3 separate regions of the Homo sapiens genome follow, and all the other regions are linked to region 3. The links come from fine-mapping of genetic effects on gene expression. A gene starts in region 3. Each other region holds a variant in brackets. All regions are shown on one strand. Distances are between the middles of the regions.

The links.
Region 1: its variant is fine-mapped to the expression of CSNK1G3 in whole blood (INTERVAL, PIP 0.99).
Region 2: its variant is fine-mapped to the expression of CSNK1G3 in whole blood (INTERVAL, PIP 0.95).

Annotation. Positions count from the first base shown.
Region 1 is chr5:123,424,697-123,427,196 of GRCh38, forward strand. No RefSeq gene overlaps it. Among named protein-coding and RNA genes, the nearest start is that of CEP120, 2.5 kb to the left of the region's middle. The variant C/G (reference allele first, on the strand shown) is at 1,272.
Region 2 is chr5:123,457,610-123,460,440 of GRCh38, forward strand. No RefSeq gene overlaps it. Among named protein-coding and RNA genes, the nearest start is that of CEP120, 36 kb to the left of the region's middle. The variant G/T (reference allele first, on the strand shown) is at 1,760.
Region 3 is chr5:123,511,217-123,513,716 of GRCh38, forward strand. It overlaps CSNK1G3 (casein kinase 1 gamma 3), which reads left to right and starts at 961. Exons shown (of 14, transcript NM_001364140.2): 1 at 961-1,354. RefSeq lists enhancers at 673-732, 893-1,102, 2,133-2,282 and silencers at 1,283-1,372, 1,543-1,612.

The DNA.
Region 1 (2,500 bases), 87 kb before region 3:
CAGAATGATATAATGAACCCCCAGTTACCCAGACCCCAGCTTCAACGATTATCAACTTAAGACCAATCATCTTCATCTGTTGTGTTATTTTTAAAGAAATCCCCAACATCACATCAATTCATCTTTTTGGATACGTACTTCTAAAAGATGAAGACTTTTTGGCCAGGTGTGGTAGTGGCTCACATCTGTAATCCCAGCACTTTGGGAGGCTGAGGTGGGCGGATCACTTGAGTCAGGAGTTCGAGACCAACCTGGCCAACATAGCAGAACTCCGTCTCTACTAAAAATACAAAAATTAGCCAGACGTGGTAGCGCAAGCCAGAAATCCCAGCTACTTGGGAGGCTGAAGCACGAGAAGGCTGAGGCACGAGAATCGCTTGAAATCATGAGGCAGAGGTTGCAGTGAGCCGGTATCATGCCACAGCGCTCCAGCCTGGGCCACAGAGAAAGACTCAGTCTCAAAAAAAAAAAAAAAAAAAAAGATAACGACTTCTTAAAGAATCTTAAAATATTAAGTATTTAACCACAATCCCATTATTACACTTAATAATTAACAAAAATTTCTTAATCCCATTAAATATATACTGTTCAAATTTCTCTGATTGTCTAATAATTTGTTTGCAGTCGGTTTTTTCAAATCAGGATCCAAACAAGTTCCAAAATACAATGGTTGGTATGTCTCTTGTCTTTTTTAATGTATATGGTTAGGCTTTGTGCCCCCACCAAAATCTCATTTTGAATTGTAATCCCCACAACCCCCAAGTGTCAAGGAAGGGACCAGATGGAGGTAATTGAATCATGGGGGTGGTTTCCTCCATGCTATTCTCCTGATAGTCAGTGAGTTCTCAGGAGATCTGACGGTTTTATTAAGCGCTCTTCCCCCTTTACTCACTCACTCTTCTCCTTCTTGCTGCCTTGTGAGGAAGGTGCCTTGCTTCCCCTTTGCCTTCTGCCATGACCATAAGTTTCCTGAGGCCTCCCTAGCCATGCTGAACTATGAGTCAATTAAACCTCTTTCCTTTTGAAATTACCCAGTCTTGGGCAGTTCTTTATAGTAGTATGAAAACGGACTAATGGAGGTACCCAATCCTTCTTTTTTTTTTCTTGAAATTCTTTATTGAAGAAACTGGTCGTGTCTGCAGAGTTTACCACAGTCTGAATTTTGTTGGTATAATACCAATGTTGTGGTTTAACATATCCTCTGTTGAGAAGTCTAATAAATATGTACACATTAACAACACTTAAAGATTAGGAAACAAATTAACCACAAG[C/G]GAAGTATAATGTTATCAGTGGTGCAAGACAGTACTTAGCATTATAGACAAAGAGAGGCCCAAGTACCTCTGATGGAATGAGTACCCCAGAAGATCAGAGTTTGGGACCTACCTTTGCTATTTGCATGTCAGGTGACCTTAAGCAAATCACTTTCCCTCTTTGAGCCTCAGTTTCAGCTATAAAACGATAGTATGCATGGTTCTTTAGTGCAGGACTTAAATGTAGTAAATGCCACTTAGTTACTATTTTTTATATGAACAATCTCAGACTTTAAGTAGTAGCTGTGAAAAGAGCCAGGAACTGTCCATCAGCATACCTTGTTGTTTTGCTTTAGGATATCTAGCAGGGCTTCACACCTAGATTATAAACCATTACTGTATGCCATAGAATAGTTTTAGGTCATAAAAAATCTGACAGATTATTAAAATTAACAAAGAAACTTTTTCATGTAGTAAATTTCACATGATTCCCTTTATTTGGATTTTCCTCCTGAACAACATCATTTCTAAAATCACTTTCAGCACAGCTACTGAAAAGTCACCAATTTAGTTGGCCTGGTGCTTCCTCTAACAGAATGTACAAAATCAATGATATGAAATTCCTCATCTAGAAATGGAATTATAATCCTATCATCATCTATATCTGTTTTTCTATAATCTAATTTCCTTTCATATGTGATATTAAACAGTAGTAACTTCAGTTCTAGTATAAATCATCACATTTAAGCTTAAATTTATGAGGGAAAATCTTGTTGTAAGTTAATAAAGTACCAATTACTGTTTCAAAATATGTAAGTAAATGCTAGTAACATGTAATTTTTATCTATAAGACAATATGAGATTCATTACACTATAAGCTTATAAATTTAAACTGACAGGTTTTTTATTTTATTTATTTATTTTTTGAGATGGAGTCTTGCTCTGTCACCCACGCTGGAGTGCAGTGGTACGATCTTGGCTCACAGCTCACTGCAACCTCCGCCTCCCAGGTTCAAGTGATTCTCCTGCCTCAACCTCCTGAGTAGCTGGGATTACAGGTGCACACCACTACACCCAGCTCATTTTTATATTTTTAGTAGAGATGAAGTTTCACCGTGTTGTCCAGGCTGGTTTCGAACTCCTGACCTCAGGTGATTCACCCGCTTTGGTCTCCCAAAGTGTTGGGATTACAGGTGTGAGCCACCACGCCTGGGTGAAACTGACAGAATTGATGAAAGGCTTGATTCTGA
Region 2 (2,831 bases), 53 kb before region 3:
CATCGTCTCAGCCCAAAATCTCCTTAAGCTGATAAGCAACTTCAGCAAAGTCTCAGGATACACAATCAATGTGCAAAAATCACAAGCATTCTTATACACCAATAACAGATAAACAGAGAGCCAAATCATGAGTGAAGTCCCATTCACAATTGCTTCAAAGAGAATAAAATACCTAGGAATCCAACTTACAAGGGACATGAAGGACCTCTTCAAGGAGAACTACAAACCACTGCTCAATGAAATAAAAGAGGATACAAACAAATGGAAGAACATTCCATGCTCATGGGTAGGAAGAATCAATATCATAAAAATGGCCATACTGTCCAAGGTAATTTATAGATTCAATGCCATCCCCATCAAGCTACCAATGACTTTCTTCACAGAATTGGAAAAAACTACTTTAAAGTTCATATGGAACCAAAAAAGAGCCCGCATCACCAAGTCAATCCTAAGCCAAAAGAACAAAGCTGGAGGCATCACATTACCTGACTTCAAACTATACTACAAGGCTACAGTAACCAAAACAGCATGGTACTGGTACCAAAACAGAAATATAGATCAATGGAACAGAACAGAGCCCTCAGAAATAACACCACGTATCTACAGCTATCTGATCTTTGACAAACCTGAGAAAAAGAAGCAATGGGGAAAGCATTCCCTATTTAATAAATGGTGCTGAGAAAACTGGCTAGCCTTATGTAGAAAGCTGAAATGATCCCTTCCTTACACTTTATACAAAAATTAATTCAAGATGGATTAAAGACTTAAATGTTAGACCTAAAACCATAAAAACCCTAGAAGAAAACCTAGGCATTACCATTCAGGACACAGGCATGGGCAAGGACTTCATGTCTAAAACACCAAAAGCAATGGCAACAAAAGCCAAAATTGACAAATGGGATCTAATTAAATTAAAGAGCTTCTGCACAGCAAAAGAAACTACCATCAGAGTGAACAGGCAACCTACAGAATGGGAGAAAATTTTTGCAACCTACTCATCTGACAAAGGGCTAATATCCAGAATCTACAATGAACTCAAACAAATTTACAAGAAAAAAACAAACAACCCCATCAACAAGTGGGAGAAGGACACGAACAGATACTTCTCAAAAGAAGACATTTATGCAGTCAAAAAACACATAAAAAAATGCTCACCATCACTGGCCATCAGAGAAATGCAAATCAAAACCACAATGAGATACCATCTCATACCAGTTAGAATGGCAATCATTAAAAAGTCAGGAAACAACAGGTGCTGGAGAGGATGTGGAGAAATAGGGACACTTTTACACTGTTGGTGGGACTGTAAACTAGTTCAACCATTGTGGAAGTCAGTGTGGTGATTCCTCAGGGATCTAGAACTAGAAATACCATTTGACCCAGCCATCCCATTACTGGGTATATACCCAAAGGATTATAAATCATGCTGCTATAAAGACACATGCACACGTATGTATACTGCGGCACTATTCACAATAGCAAAGACTTGGAACCAACCCAAATGTCCAACAATGATACACTGGATTAAGAAAATGTGGCACATATACACCATGGAATACTATGCAGCCATAAAAAAGGATGAGTTCATGTCCTTTGTAGGGACATGGATGAAATTGGAAATCATCACTCTCAGTAAACTGTCGCAAGGACAAAAAACCAAACACCGCATGTTCTCACTCATAGGTGGAAATTGAACAATGAGAACACATGGACACAGGAAGGGGAACATCACACTCTGGGGACTGTTGTGGGGTGGGGG[G/T]AGGGGGGAGGGATAGCATTAGGAGATATACCTAATGCTAAATGACGAGTTAATGGGTGCAGCACACCAGCATGGCACATGTATACATATGTAACTAACCTGCACATTGTGCACATGTACCCTAAAACTTAAAGTATAATAATAATAAAATAAAATAAAATAAAAGAAGAAAAATAAATTTGGTTGAATTTGTTTTATTTCTTAATTAATTTGACACGTATTTGTTGAATATTTATTCTGTGCTACATACATGGGGGTAAAATAATAATCTGAAATTCCTCTAAGAATTTGTAATTCAATAATGAATAGTAATTATTGTGAATTCTGCCTCCAACCTCTTTCTATACCCTTCAATAACTCTATGTAACCATCATCTAAGGCCACTACAACTAGTGCTTAAAATCTTTATCATAGCTTGGCCGGGCGCGGTGGCTCACGCCTGTAATCCCATCACTTTGGGAGGCCGAGGTGGGCAGATCACGAGGTCAGGAGTTCAAGACCAGCCTGGCTAACATGGTGAAACCCCATCTCTACTAAAAATACAAAAATTAGCCGGGTGTGGTGGCACCTGCCTGTAATCCCAGCTACTTGGGAGGCTGAGGCAGGAGAATCGCTTGAACCCAGGAGGCGGAGGTTGCAGTGAGCCGAGACCGTGCCACTGCACTCCAGCCTGGCAACAGAGCAAGACTCCATCTCAAAAAAAAAAAAAAAAATCTTTATCATAGCCTATCTGGATCACTGTAATTGCTCCAGACCTGATCATGCCATTTCCCTGCTTAAACTCTGTACTGCCTTGTCACTGGCCTCAAAACTCTGTGATTAATTAGGTCTCAATTTACCTCTCTAGATTTATCTATCACCACTCATACCTCAAAATCTATCACTTTAGATTAAATTCTTTTCCATTTTCCATCTTGCTATACTCCTTCTTACTTTTGGGGTTTGCACATGACACTCCCTCTGCTTGAATCATATTCTCCACCCCAATCCTCTTCTATCTTTGCCTGTTTACTTCTTACAAGCCCTTCAGGTCTCCTATTATGCGTCACTGCAGGAAGCTTTCCTTGACCTT
Region 3 (2,500 bases):
TGATAAAATGAACATTTAAAAAACATGGCACCAGGCTGATTCTTCTTCCTGCACACCTTAATGCCTAACTTTTGAAAGGACTTGAGACATAAGAATCACAATTTTAAAAAATTATAGTTTCCATGCCTTCATGGTGGATCAATTTCCATAGAAGTCTACCAAAATGACTTATCTCCATCCCAGGGAAGCAACTGCAAGAGGGAAAATGAAAGGAATGCAGTCTTTCTATGTAGGCAGAGTGGACTTAAGTGTGAGTCAGAAACACCGATTTCAGTTTGTGCGCTGCAACTTGATAACTTGGGTGATGTTTGGCTTCTCAGAACTTTGGGAGGTGAATTTGAAAAACAGGTAATGCCACACTATATAGTTCAGAGGATTACCTCAGCTTACAAACAGCAAATGAGACGCAAATGTGAGCCATAATTCACATTTCTAAGCAGTTGGAGCCCTGATATGGCACTGGGGTTACAAACAAGCGGGGAAAAATGTCAACCCAGTGATGTCATACTCCTAGGCCGGGCCCTAAGATTTTTTTGGAACCTGGCGGGCTGAGCACAACAGGGAAAGCCTCAGCACCCTGACTTGGCACAATGGTACCCTTAAGGCTCTTTGCTCACTCAGTTCTTAGTAGCTCTCCTAAAGCATGGTGGTGTTCTCTTCCAGTTCTCTGCGTAGACTTTGCTATGCTTCTCCGCCCACTGCTTCATCCAGAGAAACACTCGTATCCACAGCCTCTCCCCACTTTCCCTCACGCACGGCTCTAGAAAGACGGGGATAGGGCGCGGCTTAGGCTTTATACACCTTGCCAGCCAATGACCGCGCCGTCTCCTTTCCGGTCGGCGATCCGACCAATCCAAGAAGGTTGGTGCAATCTTCGGCTCTACTCGGCTGTTTTCGCTGATGCGGGCAGCTTGGGGGCCGCCGCCGCTAAACAGACGCTTTCCTTTTTAATTTTTTTTCCATGTGTTCACTTCCGGGTCCGGCGTCGATCCGGATGCCCGAGGCAGAAGGATGTTTGACCTCCGGATAAGCGAGGCGCTGCTGTGCATTCATTCCGGGCTGCATCGGTGGCGACAGCAGAGGCTCGGGCGGCGACTCTCCGGCCAGCGGCGGCGGTAGGAGGCACCAGCGGCAGTGCAGGGACCGAATCCGAGCAGCGCTGCGTTACCTCTCTCTCTCGCTCCTTCCCCCCTACCTCGCTCGCTCGCTCGCTCGCTCCCTGCGTGGCTCGCTTTCCTCCTCCGGCCGCCGGCGGGTGTGATGTGCCGCCGCCGCTGCCCCCGCCGGCGCTGACGGACTGGGGGCGCCGCCCGCGCCCGGGACCGACCCCTCTGCTCGCGGCCGCGCCTTTGAGGTAAAGCCCCCTGCGCGTAGGTGCTCCGCTGCCAGCCCCGGCCCGGCGGCTGCCTCGGCGCGGCCGCGGCGCCCTCCCTCCCGGGTGGGGCTGGGGTCCCGGGCGGGTGGGGTGGGGTGCGGCGGGGGCGGCGCCGCAGGCGCGGGTGTCGGGGGAGGGGTGGGCGAGGACCATGGCGGGTGGCCCGGAGGCGTGGGCAGGAGGGGGCCGCGGTCGGAGGCTGAGGGCGCGGAGGGCTAGGGGGCAGCGGGGGCCGCGGGTGGCGGGTCGGGCTGGGTGCAAAAGTTGCCGGAGTGGTGCGGCGCGACTGGGGCGGCGAGGGAGGTGGGCCAACTGGGCCGGCGGGGGCTTCCTTAGGAGAGATTGGGAGGTGGGGAGTGTCGCCCACGGTGCTCCTTGACTGTGTCCAGACAATTACCTTTGGAGTAGGGGCTTCAGGCAGGAAGGAGGCATGGATAGGCTGGGAGGAGGCGACGGGGGCCAGCGTTCAGCTCAGGGATAAACTTCCCGTTGGAGTGTTTAAGGGGTTGGGTGGGGGGACACAGGGATTTACCTGTTTCTTAGAGCTTTGACTCAGCTCAAAACTTAACCAAGACATTAGTCAAAGGTTAGCAAAATCACTCTGATGGTTACTCTCATGGTGCCGGTTTGTTTGTTTATCCCACATGCAGGGGAAGTGACACTGAGAAGCATCGGGTCTCTTGGTCCACAGCCTCCACATTTCTTTTCAGCAGGATGAGGAGGGAGATGTGTGTCTACTCGTGGGGTGGGGGTAGTGAGGCCTGTGTCATGGTCATTCCCCTTCTCCCACCTCATGTTTTAGGGAGGAAAAGTTCAGATGGGGGAGAGAGTGAGTGTGCCTGTGTGTGTGGGAGACAGCTACTGTTGATACACTGTGTGAATTACTTTCAACTCTTTTGTAGTAAGCACCCAGGCTGGTCAGTGGCTCCTTTTAAATCTTCTATTAAAATATTTACTTTAAATTAGAGAATTAAAAATGTACTTATTTTTAATGAATTAAGAAAATAAGTCATTATTTTACTTTTTGCAATTACTTAGTCCGATTCAAATGACATTTGGCCACAGATATGAGAGATGGCAAACTATATCTAAGATGGGATATAAAATGAAAAGTATATACTTTTT